Linked DNA regions of Homo sapiens. The protein of the gene in region 4 interacts with the protein of the main gene of each other region in a pairwise test. Each region holds a gene or a part of one and is shown on either strand. Other genes may lie near its edges. The genes, in order: ZDHHC16, STX8, LAPTM4A and TMED8.

Region 1 (3,808 bases), on a different chromosome or scaffold from region 4:
TAGGCATTATTACCACTTGTGAAAACCGAGGTTTGGAGAGATGAGTTACCTTGTCCAATATCTTATAGCCATTAAACTGCAGAGCTGGGTTTGAAGCAAGGCCTGGCTGTCTTCAAAGTCTGTGCCCTTTCCACCTCAGCAGGATGCTGGTCCTTGTAGGGAAGGATTGGCACTGACATCTCAAGAACTTTGGCCACCGTAACAGAGCCTGTGTCCCTTCCTCACAGGTGTGTGCTGAAGATGGATCACCACTGCCGTATCCTTTTGCTTTCTCTTCTGCCTGAGGCCTTCTTTAGCTCCAGAGCACTGTACAGGGTTAATGGCCACCATTTTAGCATCACCGTGCAGAGAACACTGGAGTTGAGGAGTTGTGGGGCCTGACCATCTCCTGGGAGAGCAGGAAGCTCACACTCTAGGACGGATCTTCTTGGAGCAGGGAATCTTTTAACACCTCTTTCTTTTCTAGACTCTCATGCTAACAGCTATTGGATGGAAAGAGATGTTTGGGCTTCTGTGGTTGTTTACTGTGTACGCCAGATAGAACCGTGGGTCTCCAGCTGCTGTTCCACACAGATGTTTGGCTAACTCCAGCTAGGCTGAAATATTGGCAGATTCATTTTACTGAAGGATTTCAGTTTCCGTGACTTCTTGGTGGGACCTGAATGCTCTGAAAAGCTTTGAGCATTTTCACCTCAACCTTGGGTGTGAACAGTCTTGTATTTTCTTGCCTTTGGAAAGTAGTTCTTAGTGACTGGAAGCCTGAGGCTTGGGTGATATTGTCAGGAACCAGGGATGAACCTGAGGGGCCTGGACACCGCCTGAAATTGTGTTTGATTCTAGTCCTTAATCATTTCCCAACCAGCCTGGCTAAACAATTGTGTGGGCCACTATAACCATCGGTACTTCTTCTCTTTCTGCTTTTTCATGACTCTGGGCTGTGTCTACTGCAGCTATGGAAGTTGGGACCTTTTCCGGGAGGCTTATGCTGCCATTGAGGTGAGCTCATCAGGAACAGGGCAGCTCAGTAGTGCAGAACTTCGGGATGTAGAACCTGTCCCTAAGGAATGGGGCTGGTAGCACCCCATCCTAGAGGCCTGAGAGTATAACCAGCACTGTTTTCCGTCCCCTTAGAAAATGAAACAGCTCGACAAGAACAAACTACAGGCGGTTGCCAACCAGGTGGGCTGTCCCCACCCCACTGCCTCCTGCTGCTCAGGCCTGGGGGTATAGAGTTGCTAAGGCATCTGGGGCCGACCTGCCCATGTAGTTGTAGAGGCTGCCGAGAGGCCACTCTAGACCAGATCAGGAGTGTTCAGGCAGGCTGGCTGTGGTGGGTAGACTAAGTGGCCTACAGGCAAGCTGGAAGTCCCTGGTATGTGACAGTTTTGGCTATCTATCCCGTCATCACCTCTCTTTGGGTCGAGCAAGCAATCTGCCTTGGTGATGGCCTGAGCAGCAAGGAGTCTATGTTAGTCTGTGTAATGGGGTTCCAGGGGACAGAGATCAGGCAGAGCCAGTCTGATCATCCCTTGCTCCTGGTCCATCTGCATCTGGATCATCCCTGCCCCCCCAGTACCTTTTAGGACTCCCTAATCTGCTGAGCCCATCTTGATTGTATTTCTGCTGCCCTTTCACAGTCCCTAGTGGAGCTCACAGTCCCTAGTGGTTTTCCCCACTCCAGTCAGTCCATTCTGGGTATGGTCTGGTCTCCTCTCTTGGGGATGCAGCTGTGCAGTGAAGGAGTTCTGGCTGGGGATTGGAGTGGCTTCCCCTGGAGCCCCATTTGTGTTGTCACTCTACAGGCCCAGGGTCAGCTTCTCCTGTGCTTCACCATCCTGTCCAGACCCTGCTCTGCTGCCCAGTGTTTGTCCATGTGGTGATGCCGCTGGGCTTGGTCCACCCATCTTGGCTGCTACCCTAACTCCTCTGTGGCTTTACCCTGTTTTCTCTGCCTGGATTTGGATCATTTCCTGCCTATAGGTGCTGGGGGCAGTTGCTGGAGACCCACAGAGCAAATGAGCCAGCTTTGCTGTTTTCTTTTTCTAGACTTATCACCAGACCCCACCACCCACCTTCTCCTTTCGAGAAAGGATGACTCACAAGAGTCTTGTCTACCTCTGGTTCCTGTGCAGGTATTTGTTTTTGATAGTTTTAAGGGAGGGGAAGCTTCAGAAAAAAAGTTTTTTAGGTGCCCACACGCAGGCAGAAACCCATTCCTAAGTGAACTGCCACTGCTCTAGTCTAACTTAGGTTGGCAGAGAGCCAGCACTTTCTTCAGCATTCAGGGCAGGGAGCACTGAGGATATTGGCATTGCTTATTACTAAGCACACAGATACAAGTATGTGCTTGATATGTAACCAAAGTAAGTTAAACTCCTTATTTAATCTTAGCACCTGTCTAAAGGCTGGGTGACTGTATTTATAGATGAGGAAAACTGAAAATTGGGGGCCAAGGGGCAGTGAAGTGAAGTGACTTGTTCTATGATACACAGCTAGTAGGAATATTAGCACTGGAATTTGAATTTCATGCCATCCCATTCCAACCCTGGGTGTTTACTACTTCCCACTATCTCCCAAGCATGGGTATTTTAGGAAATATAGAACATTTTCTCAGCAATACAGACTTATTTCTCTATTCTCCTTTCCACATACTCTCTTTTCCCTTAACAACAACAGAGATGGAGTCTTGCTATGTTGCCCAGGCTAGACTCAAATGATCTTCCTATCTCAGTCTCCTGAGTTGCTGGGACTACTAGGCATGAGCTACCATGCCTGGCTTCACATCATTTATTCTTAGGCCACTTTGATGCTTTTTCATTGATGCTCTTTATAGACATAGTGAAGTAAAAGTTTATCTAGGATATATGGTGGGAGGTGAGGAAGACTTAGGTAGAGAGGTTCCAAACCAGTTGTTACTGCTTAGCTCAATTTCAGACATACTTCCTCCAGCCCTCTCTAAACTACCCACCAGTCTTCGCCCCTCTTTTCTTAGTTCTGTGGCACTTGCCCTGGGTGCCCTAACTGTATGGCATGCTGTTCTCATCAGTCGAGGTGAGACTAGCATCGAAAGGCACATCAACAAGAAGGAGAGACGTCGGCTACAGGCCAAGGGCAGAGTGAGTAGGGTTGAAGGCTCGGGGTGGGTAGGTGGGTAACTGAACTTGCTCTCCTGTAAACAGAGGCCATGGGCAGGGCTGACTAGGGCAAGCATTGTAAAAGGCCAGAACTACTCTATCTGAGCTTTAGCTTAGCCAATTTAGTCTGAAAAATTAGAAGTTCAAAGAAACATGTTTTTCTTGGCTCCAGGTATTTAGGAATCCTTACAACTACGGCTGCTTGGACAACTGGAAGGTATTCCTGGGTGTGGATACAGGAAGGTAATGTAAGACACACAGACTAATGCTGTCCAACAGAACACTGTGATGAGAAAGATGTTCTATGCCTGTGAGCACTTGGAATATGGCTAGTGGCTACTGTGTTAGCACAGTTCTAGACTCTAGGAATAGAGATCATTGTCCATTTGAACCAGAAAGGCTTGAGGCCAATACTGTGTGGTTTTAAGTAACAGATGAGGCTTCAACGTGACTACAGTGGAATCCTAGGAAAGCTGTGCTCAGGAAGGGGCCTCTGGGTGTAGGATATGGTGGCCACCAGTCACCTCTCACTTGGAGAGCAGTGTCTAGAGTTCAAGCCAATAATTTGTGAGATTAAAATAATCTACTTGTCATAGAGGCCCTAAGACAGTAACTGGAGCTAGCTCTCTCAGCCCAAGACAAGGGGAAACAATTTTTCAAATGGCAGTTACTGA
Region 2 (3,808 bases), on a different chromosome or scaffold from region 4:
CCATACAAAGTCTTATACATGAATGCTAATAGCAGCTTTCTTTGTAACAGTCAAAAACTGAAAACCACCCAAATATTAATCAACAGGTGAATGGATACACAGATTGTGGTAAATCCATACAATGGAATACAAATCTATAATATAAGAGTGAAATGCAGGCCGGGCGCGGTGGCTCATGCCTGTAATCCCAGCACTTTGGGAGGCCGAGTCGAGTGGATCGCTTGAGGTCAGGAGTTCGAGACCAGCCTGGCCAGCATGGTGAAACCCCATCTCTACTAAAAATACAAAAAAAATTAGCTGGGCATGATGGCGGGCGCCCGTAATCCCAGCCACTCGGGAAGCTGAGGCAGGAGAATTGCTTGAACCCAGGAGGTGGAGGTTGTGGTGAGCTGAGATCGTACCACTGCACTCCAGTCTAGGCAGCAAAGCCAGACTCTGTCTCAAAAAAAAAAAAAAAAAAAAAAGAGTGAAATACTGATACACATAACCAGTTCAATGAATCTTAAAATAATTATGCTTAGACAAAGAAGCCAGAGCCCCTTCTTCCCCAAAAGGTACATACTGTATAGTTCTATTTATATAAAATTATAGAAAATGGAAACTAATTTATAGTGACAGAAAGAAGTTCAGCAGTTGTCTGGGCATGGCAGGGAGGAACAATAGGAAGAATTACAAAGAGGCATGAAGAAAACTTTTGGGAATAACAATTAGGTTCATTATTTTTATTGCAGTGATGGTTTCACAGGCATATACATATGTCAAAGCTTATCAAATCATATACTTCAAACATGGGCCATTTATGATCATATCAACTACATCTCAATAAAGCTGACTTTAGATTTATTTTCTCCTCCTCCTCCTCCCTCTTCCTTTTTATTCATTAATTTTTTTAAAGATGGGATTTTACTATGTTGCCTAGGCTGGTGTCAAACTCCTACACTCAAGCCATCCTGCTGCCTTGGCCTCCCAAAGTGTCAGGAGTACAGGCATGTGCCACCAGGCCTGGCAATAAAGCTGATTTTAAAAAGCAGAATTAGAAAGAATAATGTATCTGTACATACTGACATTTTAAAAAGTCCATAACACATACTAAGTGGTTTTTTCTTTTTTTTCCTTTGAGATGGAGTCTCACTCTGTTGCACAGGCTGGAGTGCAGTGACATGCTATATCGGCTCACTGCAACCTCTGCCTCCTGGGTTCAAGCGATTCTCCTGCCTCAGCCTCCTGAGTAGCTAGGACTACAGGTGCGTGCCACCACACCCAGCTAATTTTTTATTTTTAGTAGAGACGGCGTTTCACCATGTTGGCCAGGCTGGTCTCGAACTCCTGATCTCAGGTGATCCTCCTGCCTCAGCCTCCCAAAGTGCTGGGATTACAGGCGTGAGCCACCACACCCAGCCGACACATACTAAGTTTTAAAAAGGTGTGGAATTATATATATATATGGAGAGAGCTAAATATCTCATGATTCCATTTATGTAAAATAAGTATATTTATATTGAATATATGTATGTGAATGTATACAAAAGGTCTAAGGAAATACATATTAATCTGTTTCCAGTTTGAGATTGGAGAAACAATATGGAGGGCTTTCATCTTATACATTCCTATGTTGTTTACACTTTGTATAACAATCATGCATACTTCTGAAATTTTAAAAATATAAGAAAGTTTAAAAAAAAAAAGTTAAAAAGCCACAGGGCAAAAGATAAAAAAGAAAAGCCAAACTGACATATTTTATAATTTAAAAAATAAAATGGAGTCTTGTGTTTGGAGACTAATTCCCAGTCGTGAAGCTAAAGTAAAGAGCATAAGCATCAAATTTGCTTGGACTTAGATTCAGATCTGCTCTCTCTGCTCTTGCCCAATGGAAAATCACCACTTCCATGAGCCACCGAGATGAGTGACAGCAACTGTCTATTCCTCAGGTATCCTGAGGCACACACCAAAAGCTTTAAAAGACCAGCAGTTTTCACTCCAATTTTCAATGGGGATGAGGAACAAACAAGGCTCCAGTAGAAAATCTGGTGGCCGGGCACGGTGGCTCACACCTGTAATCCCAGCACTTTGGGAGGCCAAGGTGGGAAGATCATGAGGTCAGGAGATCAAGACCATCCTGGCTAACAGGGTGAAACCCTGTCTGTACTAAAAATACAAAAAATTAGCCGGGCATGGTGGCACGCACCTGTAGTCCCAGCTTCTCGGGAGGCTGAGGCAGGAGAATCGTTTGAACCCGGGAGGTGGAGGTTGCAGTGAGCCAAGATCACGCCACTGCACTCCAGCCTAGGCGACATAGCAAGACTCCGTCTCAAAAAAAAAAAAAAAAAAATTCTGGCAAGGTTTCTGAGCCCACACTCCTCAGGATATTTAGTACCTTGGATAATTTTCTGCTGCTGTTGCCGGATTTCATCAAAACCCAAGCCTCTGGTCTCCTCTGGCTCCTCAAAGAGCCAAGGGTTGGGTGCTCCTCGCTTAGCCTCTTCACTCATCAGGCTGGACCTAAAGAACAATATTAAATGCATGATATATCTCAAAACATGCAGCTCAAATGCAAATTACTCCCACAAGTGCAGAGGTGGCCAGCCTTGAATGCTTTGAAAATTCAATTCAAACACAATTTATTGCATCATTAGTTTATGCCAGGAACTGTATTCAGTGCTGGACGAGATACAAGGATGAATAAGGCACAAGCTTGGTCCTCAGAATTACAGCCTGTTATAGAGATGATGGGAGAACATAATATTTGTACTAATCCTCCAAGAGATGTTTGAGTTAATAATCCTAAAAGAAGTTGGTAATAAATGAGGTTCTTAAATTTCAAAAACAGAAGGCCGAACAGCGGCCTTTTTATTAGGACAAAGTTTGTCTCAGAGGCTACGTGACCCCAAAGGTACAAATATTATTTCTCAAGCAGACACAATGTTGCGACTACAGATTACAATGTTGTTGTTGTTTTAAAAAAAGACCATATAATTTCCCATTAAAGGGTATTTGGAGCCGGGCGCAGTGGCTCATGTGTGTAATCCCAGCCCTCTGGGAGGCTGAGGCGGGCAGATCACCTGAAGTCAGGAGTTCCAGACCAGCCCGTCCAACATGATGAAACCCTGTCTCTAATAAACACAAAAAAAATTAGCCGGGCTTGGCGGCAGACATCTGTAATCCCAGCTACTTGGGAGGCTGAGGCAGGAAAATCGCTTGAACCTGAGAGGCGGAGGTTGCAGTGAGCCAAGATGGCGCCACTGCACTGCAGCCTGGGTAGCGGAGCAAGACTCTGTCTCAAAAAAAAAAAAAAAAAAAGGAGTATTTGGTTGCTCAGAGACAGAAACACATGCAGGGTTTCAATACCAATTTTGTGACTATAATGTAGCATTCATAACAGAATAAACACATTCTGATTTGTCAATCTTAACCTTACTCCCTCTAATAATCCATGTGCCCTTTCTGCACGAGACCAGTTGGTCTCGCTGTCTAAGGAACAGGAAACACATGATTTCCACCTCAGTCCCCATGTTTTCAGGATTTTTCTCCTCTCAAGTAGCTCCTCTCCTCTCCCCACCTGTCTGCATTCTGTCCAAGCTGAGAAGATCATCTTGTCCAGGACACGACCTTCTGACCAATTCAACAAAGAGATGAACATTAGACTCATCTTTAGAGCTCTCAACAGATTCATGAAAAATCATAGAATAAATGATGGGTGGGACATCAGCAAGATGACTGATTAGAGTCAGCTGGTGCTCACCCGCTCCCCCCCCCCCCCACCCACCTTTCTTAGGAAAGGACTAAGGCAATGAATAAACAGCTAAGATTT
Region 3 (3,808 bases), on a different chromosome or scaffold from region 4:
AGACTTACCAAGATACTGAAAGTCACTTATCTACTAGTCTTACTTTTGTGTGTGTGTGTGTATGTGTATGTGTGCGTGTGTGTGATATGGAGTCTCACTCTATTGCCCAGGGTGGAGTGCAGTGGTGCAATCTCAGCTCACTGAAGCCTCCCCTTCCTAGGCTCATGTGATCCTCCCACCTCAGCCACCTGGTAGCTGGGATTACAGGTGCCCACGACCATACGCGGGTGATTTTTGTATTTTTAGTAGAGACGGGGTTTCACTATGTTGGCCAGGCTGGTCTCTAATTCCTGACCTCAAGTGATACACCCAGCCCTAGCCTCCCAAAGTGTTGGTATTACAGGCGTGAGCCACCACGCCCGGCCTTAAATCTACCTTTTGAGATAATGTGCTCTCCCTTCTAAATAAGTGCTCCAATACCTGAAAACAGCCTCCAAATACTGTGTTCTCTAGAATAGACATGCAGATCTTTAAGCCATTCCTCTGACTAGCATGTTTCCTAGCTACCTATTTCCCTTTTGTCTTCCTCTTTACACATGCTCCAGTTTGATGGACATATATTAAAATGAGGTAAAGTCACCCTGGTCAGAACATAATGGGATCTCAGTTCTCATATTCTGGCTAACGAATTTCAATTAATGCAACCTGAAGTTGTACTGAGGTTTTTTGTTTTTGTTAGAAACAAGGTCTCACCATATTGCCTAGGCTGGTCTTGAACTCTTGGCCTCAAGTGATCCTCCTGCTTTAGCCTCCCAACATGCTGTGATTACAGGCATGAGCCACCGCACCCAGCCTGCATTGGCTTTACAAATTTTCTGAATATCACATGAGAGTAACTCCCTAAAACACCAAGTTCTTTTTCACACTTGATTGTGCTAAGCTCCCACCTGTACAGTTGGATTCAGAGGCCCAAGCATAGGCCTTAATATACCTGTAATTGAGTTTCATCTTATTACATTCTTGCCTATGAAGATTTTCTGGATGTGGATTCTGACACACTACAGATTTACTGTCTCAACTTCCTGAATTTAGGATCAGCATGTAATCAGTATTTCCATCTAAGTTACTAACAAAAGAGAACAGAGGTGAGGACAAAGCTGCCAGAGGCTGCCCCTTCCCATTAACTAGCAACTTCTGAATAAAATTGTTTAGCTCTTTAGAGGAACAGCCTGCTGAAATCCCATTATAATATCTGAATTTTCCTAGTCTCCCAGGGTTGTAAATCCATTTTAAAAGGAAATGAGTTGTGCCTGTAGTTGTTGGCCAATCCCTGTGGTATCCCAGGAGGCTTCACTGCATTTAAGTACTCAGAAAGAGTATTGTTAACGACTCAAGACAGAAATCTCACGTAGGATTGGAGTTAGGCTTCCTTATCTAGCATAGTAAAGTTCACAGAATTTGCCCTCCTTCCCTTTGTGAAAATGTGAACATCTGGAATTTTCAAGGGTTAAGTTCCTATCAGTAGTATTTTAATTTATTTAGTTTTTGAGATGGAGTCTCGCTCTGTCGCCCAGGCTGGAGTGCAGTAGCGCAATCTCGGCTCACTGCAGCCTCCACCTCCTGGGTTCAAGCGATTCTCCTGCCTCAGTCCCCGGGGTAGCTGGGACTTTTTTTTTTTTTGAGACCAAGCCTTGCTCTGTCACCCAAGCTGGAGTGCAGTGGCGCAATCTCAGCTCACTGCAGCTTCCACCTCTTGGGTTCAAGCAATTCTCACACCTCAGCCTCCCAAGTAGCTGGGACCTTTTTTTTTTTTTTTTTTTTTGAGACCAAGCCTCGCTCTGTCACCCAGGCTGGAGTGCAGTGGCACGATCTCGGCTTACTGCAGCTTCCACCTCTTGGGTTCAGGCCATTCTCACACCTCAGCCTCCCGAGTAGCTGGGACTACAGGCGTGCACCATTCAAGCCTGGCTAATTTTTGTATTTTTAGTAGAGGTGGGGTTTCGCCACGTTGGCCAGGCTGGTCTCAAACTCCTGACCTCAAGTGATCCACCAGCCTTGGCCTCCCAAAGTGCTGGGATTACAGGTGTGAGCCACTGTGTCGGCCAGCTATCGATAGTATTTTAAACAAACTATTATATACTTCTCTCCTGTTTCACCTTGAATGATAAACACACAGGAAATGCATTTTCCTTTTATCAGCTGAAGTCATTTCACTAACATCCGCTAGATAAGCAGATCAAGTTTTATTTTAGGGTAGGTGATCTAAACAATGCCACAATATGAAATTTGGAATCAACCAATATTTATTGAGGATATGCTTTATGACATGTGTATTTACGTGTATTACTTCACTTATTCCTCACAACAACCCGTGAAGTAAGTATTACCAAAGCCTATGTGTAGATGGGGAAACTTAAGATTCAGTAAAGCTATATAACTTGTGTTAAGCTTGCTGAGCTGACAGATGGGAGAATCAGGACACAAGTCTGGTTTTTAAGACATCCTCCTTCTCAGCACTACGTGATTATTAATAAACATTCCCCAGTAACTCCTATTTTAAGGTCTTTCCCAAAGAAACCATTATCTAAGGCTATAAAATGTTTAGACTTTACTGTCTATGTTCAGCAGCAAGCCTCTTTCCTTGCATTGTTCAGAGGCAAGGCATGATATCTTTCAATTCTTGAGAGGACTTACCAGGAACAATCACTTTTGCAAGGTGGCTCTCCCCAGTTGAAAGCTGATTTTTTTTGTTGCCCACATTTGCTGCAATGGGTTTTGGCCAGCGTGTGTGGTGTATGAGTATGAGCTAATACAACTAGGTGAATTAATTACTGAACTATCAGATATATCTACTAAAACGTTATATGTTCTGTGTATGGAAATCAGTTTGAAATCAATTAGGCAAACTCTTCTTTGCTAAACACAGCATAGTCACAGTGAAAAAGCTCTCTGCGGTACAGAAATTCCTTTGTCAAGAAAAGCATGCAAACCCAATTACTAAATGAAGGGAATGACATGCCAAAAACATTTAGGAGTTCTATTTTCCCTTCTTAAATATTTTTATTACATGAAGGATTTCTAAAAATCTCACACCTATAGTCCCAGCTACTTGGGAGGCTGAGGTGGGAAGGATCGCCTGAGCTCTGGAGACCAGCCTAGGCAACAATACTAAGTCTGTCTCTTAAAAAACAAAAGAACTCTTCACTTTTCTTCTCTTCCATGGATAAGTCACACGCTCATCCACTATTATCTTCTTTTAGTACTAGAGACACTTCAAGTTTAATTTCACTGTGGGTCATACCACTAAATATTAAACAAAATAAATCGTAGGGCCAATCAGAAGGACCAAGAAACAGTGAAATAAATTTCAATGCTACTTCATTAAAAGCTTTTTCCAAATCTTCTTTGAGTTAATTATATTCCATTAGATCACATCATTTCATTAGAACCCCAACTTACATCTTAAAGTATTACACTGGAAAACCCATCCTTGTGACTTAAAAAAATTTTTTTTGTAGAGATGGAGTCTCACTATGTTGTCCAGTCTGGTCTTGAACTCCTGGCCTCAAGTGATCCTACTGCATTGGCCTCCTAAAGTGCTAGGATGACAGGCACGAGCCACCGCTCCTGGCATCCTTTGATCTTAAAGATATTCACCAACGAACGCCTACCTTGTGCTCACATGTAAGCCCTGGCAACTTATCTCTGATTAAAGTTGATATTTCTAAATTACATGTTTAGCTTTTCAAAAAATACATAAAATTAACTGTAATCTTACAATACAAAATTTCTCTGAAAATATCCAACTATGTACTAACTATTACAAATATTTATTCCTGATTCACTTTTTCCTTTCACTGTATTCAGG
Region 4 (3,808 bases):
TAAATACTAAATAGATCTACCACAAGAAAAGTAAGAGCAAAATAGTCCAATGACTTCAGGCTCCTCAATGAAGAGGATTTTAGAGAACACATGAACATTCACTCTAACACTTCGTTTTCTGAATCGGTGCCTACTGGGTGCCAGTACAATGATGGGCCCTGTGGAAGATACAAATAATCATTCTCCAAAAAATAATGAAGACCAAGATGCCCTAAATTAGAGGGCAAAGAGAGAATTCCGGGAGCCACCCTCGCAGTGCTTTCTAATTCCAACCCAACCACTATGTGTCCACATTCTGGTGCCTCCTTTCATAAGAAAGAGCCAGAATCTGCCCCCTACCTCATTGAGGACCTGGGCCTGGTCTGCAGGCAGCAAATCCTGTTTCACCAAGGCCTGAGCCTCCAAAGGACCAGTTGCTTTCCGCAGATCTTCCGTGGCATCCTTACTCACTGGAGATACCATCTGTGGCCTCTCAGAGGAAGAGAGCATGTTAATTCAAGGACTCTTTGAAAAGACTCAATCATCCTGGAGAAACTTTGAAATAAAACAACATTCGAGATACCCCCTGCCCCACCTGCCCCTGGCATTTATTTAGCTCTACTGTCACCTTAGCCGACCACTGCCCAGGGCTGAATTGGTCCACAGTAAAGTGTTGACAGTGTGAAAACAAAGACTAACAAGGCCAGGTCAAAGGCTAGGAGAACCATGGAAAACACACAGCTCCATCATCTGAGATGGACTGCTGGTCTGGTTTTTTTTTTTTTTTTTTTTTTTTGTCATTGTTGTTTCTTTTATTTATTTATTTTAGTTGACAAAGTGTATATATTTATGGTGTACAATGTGCTGTTTTGATATATGTACACATTGTAAAATGATTAAATTGAGCTAATTAACATATCCATCCCCTCACATACTCCTTTTTGTGGTGAGAACATTTAAAATCTACTGTCTTAGCAATTTTCAAGTATACATTGTTATTAACTATTGTCACCATGTTGTACAAAGATCTCCAGAACTTGTTCCTCCTTCTAACACCTTATACCACTTGACCAACATCTCCCCATCCCACCCCCTGGCCCCAACACCTATTAACCACCATCCTGCCCTCGGCTTCTGTGAGTTCCAATGTTATTCCTCACTCTGCGGCCCACAGGGCCCACAGAATTTTAACCGAGGAATTGGTAGAATCTCAGTTCAGTTCTACACACAAAGCCACTGGCTAGAAGCAAAAGGAGGAGGTCTGCCTAAGGGAGACTGGGCACCAAAACAAAGTACAAAATGATGATCAAGGCAACCCTCTCTGCAGTTATCCCTGAGGCAGTCTTTCAGCAGATCCGTTTCATACCCTGTCCCCGTTCAGTGCTAGGGGTCATCACTTTCTCTCCTTTTTAAAGCACATTAATCAACAATCCCAATGGCTTCAAACACAGCTATGTGAATAGTTGTTTGTTTTTTGGCAGAGTGCACCAGTGATGCATCTCACCACAACCTCAAGCAATTCTCCTGCCTCAGCCTCCCGAGTAGCTGGGATCACAGGCATGTGCCACGACACCCGGCTAATTTTGTATTTTTAGTAGAGACAGTGTTTCTCCATGTTGTTGGTCAGGCTGGTCTTGAACTCCCGACCTCAGGTGATCTGCCTGCCTCGGCCTCCCAAAGTACTAGGATTACAGGCGTGAGCCACCGTGCTCAGCCATGAATAGTTGATTATAAAGATGCAAGGGAATGATTTATGCTCTCTTCCATTTCCCCTGGCCTCACAAAAACTAGAAAATTAGTGCCACGGTTGTAGCAAAATAACCCAGGCCTTTTGGGAATCTGTTGCTGATAAAAGGTGACATGGATTTTTTTGAATGGCAGTTATCCAAGTATGGTCTAGGGGCCCTTCGGGGGAGTCTATGAAGTTCAAACTGTTTCATAATAACACTAAAATGTTATTTCCCTTTTTTCATTCTCATTTTCTCAAGAGTGTGCAGTGGAATTTTCCAGAGACTATATGACATGTGATACCGCAATAGAATGAACTCAGAAGCAGAGCTGAGAATCCAACTGCCTTTTATTAAGCCAAACATTAAAGAGATTTATGTCTCTCTTTGTACTACATTCTTTGCTTTGAAAATTAGTTGTTTTTAAGTAAAAACATGTTTTATATATAGCATGTCATGAGTTATTATTTTTAAATGAACAAATAACCATATTCTAATTTTTCAGTTTTAATTTCTTTTTTTTTTTGAGACGGAGTCTCACTCTGTCGCCCAGGCTGGAGTGCAGTGGCGCGATCTCAGCTCACTCAAGCTCCGCCTCCCGGGTTCACTCCGTTCTCCTGCCTCACCCTCCCGAGTAGCTGGGACTACAGGCGCCGGCCACCACACCCAGCTAATTTTTTTGTATTTTTAGTAGAGACGTGGTTTCACCATGTTAGCCAGGATGGTCTCGATCTCCTGACCTCGTGATCCACCCACCTTGGCCTCCCAAAGTGCTGGGATTACAGGCATGAGCCACCGCGCCCGGCTGTTTTAATTTCTAATATAGTAAATATTGATAGATATAACCCACACAAACAAAAATTCTTTGGGTCCTTAATAATTTTTAAGAGTATAAAGGTCTGAGAATCCCTGCTTGAGGGCATCATTTCCTCAAAGAGGTTGAGTAAATGACTGGAAAATGGTAGTATACACCTCATGGGGGAAACGGAGGCTTCATTTTAGAGTTTATTAGTTTGTTTCTTTTCTTTTTTAACATAAACAAGAAGAATCACTCCTTCAGATAAAACAGAGCCATCTTTTGGAATATCCAAAATTACTCCAACCTACCTCAGGACAGACAAGAGGAGGTCACTCCAAGAATCAGAGCTGTGGGATTCTGTTGATCTTTATAGGTTCACTTGGGTAATTCAGTGTAAGCTGTAAACTGGCCTAGGCTGTGGGTCTATTTTAATGCTCTTCAACCCAGAAATTATAGTCCATTTCTGTTTCTTGACACTGTGTATCATCTGCCTCCTCTACTAGAAAGTAAGCTTGGTGGCAGGCACTGGGTCTCACTGCCTCTGTATGCACAGCACTGGGAACCAAGCCTGCCACCTGGAACTCTAAGGCCCTTTTTTTTTTTTTTTTTTTTTGGAGACAGAGTCTTGCTCTGTCGCCCAAGCTGGGGTGTAGTGGCATGATCTCGGATCTCGGCTCACTGCAACTCTGCCTCCCTGGTTCAAGCAATTCTCTTGCCTCAGCCTCCTGAGTAGCTGGGACTACAGGTGTGCACCACCATGCCTGGCTAATTTTTTGTATTTTTAATAGAGACGGGGTTTCACCATGTTGGCCAGGGTGGTCTCAAACTTCTGACCTCAGATGATCCACCCGCCTCTGCCTCCCAAAGTGCTGGGATTACAGGCGTGAGCCACCTCGCCCAGCCCTAAGGCCCTTTGCACTCTGACCTCACCTCTCAGAATCCTCACTCTGCCCTGGTCCCTCCAGCCACAACAGCCTCTTCAATCCTTGATAGTCCTCAAACACCCCAAGTACTCTCCCACTTGAGAGCTTTTGCATTTGCTGTAATCTCTGCCTAGAATACTCTTCTAGGACATTAACTCTTCTTTAGTTAACTGAAGACTTCCTTCCTGCAGGTTTTCTGCTGAGAGGTTTCTCAGAGGTCTGTATATAAAATGTGTGCCCCTTCCTGGCCTTGTCACTGTTTCTGCCCTTACCCAGCTTCATTTTTCTTCACTGCACCTATTACTGCCTGACATGATATGGAGCATATTTTGTTGATTGCAAGATGCACACTGGCTTTTAGATTTTAACACAACTGAAAG

What was found.
Region 1: the proteins of TMED8 (region 4) and ZDHHC16 interact in binary tests that used the Homo sapiens proteins (3 or more experiments, as listed by UniProt).
Region 2: the proteins of TMED8 (region 4) and STX8 interact in binary tests that used the Homo sapiens proteins (3 or more experiments, as listed by UniProt).
Region 3: the proteins of TMED8 (region 4) and LAPTM4A interact in binary tests that used the Homo sapiens proteins (3 or more experiments, as listed by UniProt).

Annotation. Positions count from the first base shown.
Region 1 is NC_000010.11:97,452,668-97,456,475, forward strand, and holds part of ZDHHC16 (palmitoyltransferase ZDHHC16), read left to right. Parts: intron 1-227; coding exon 228-256; intron 257-862; coding exon 863-996; intron 997-1,131; coding exon 1,132-1,179; intron 1,180-2,046; coding exon 2,047-2,132; intron 2,133-2,934; coding exon of another isoform or gene 2,935-2,992; coding exon 2,993-3,116; intron 3,117-3,306; coding exon 3,307-3,377; intron 3,378-3,808. UniProt on the Homo sapiens protein: Palmitoyl acyltransferase that mediates palmitoylation of proteins such as PLN and ZDHHC6.
Region 2 is NC_000017.11:9,502,664-9,506,471, forward strand, and holds part of STX8 (syntaxin-8), read right to left. Parts: intron 2,500-3,808; coding exon 2,375-2,499; intron 1-2,374. UniProt on the Homo sapiens protein: Vesicle trafficking protein that functions in the early secretory pathway, possibly by mediating retrograde transport from cis-Golgi membranes to the ER.
Region 3 is NC_000002.12:20,041,471-20,045,278, forward strand, and holds part of LAPTM4A (lysosomal-associated transmembrane protein 4A), read right to left. Parts: intron 1-3,808. UniProt on the Homo sapiens protein: May function in the transport of nucleosides and/or nucleoside derivatives between the cytosol and the lumen of an intracellular membrane-bound compartment.
Region 4 is NC_000014.9:77,346,010-77,349,817, forward strand, and holds part of TMED8 (protein TMED8), read right to left. Parts: intron 472-3,808; exon of another isoform or gene 470-471; coding exon 340-469; intron 1-339.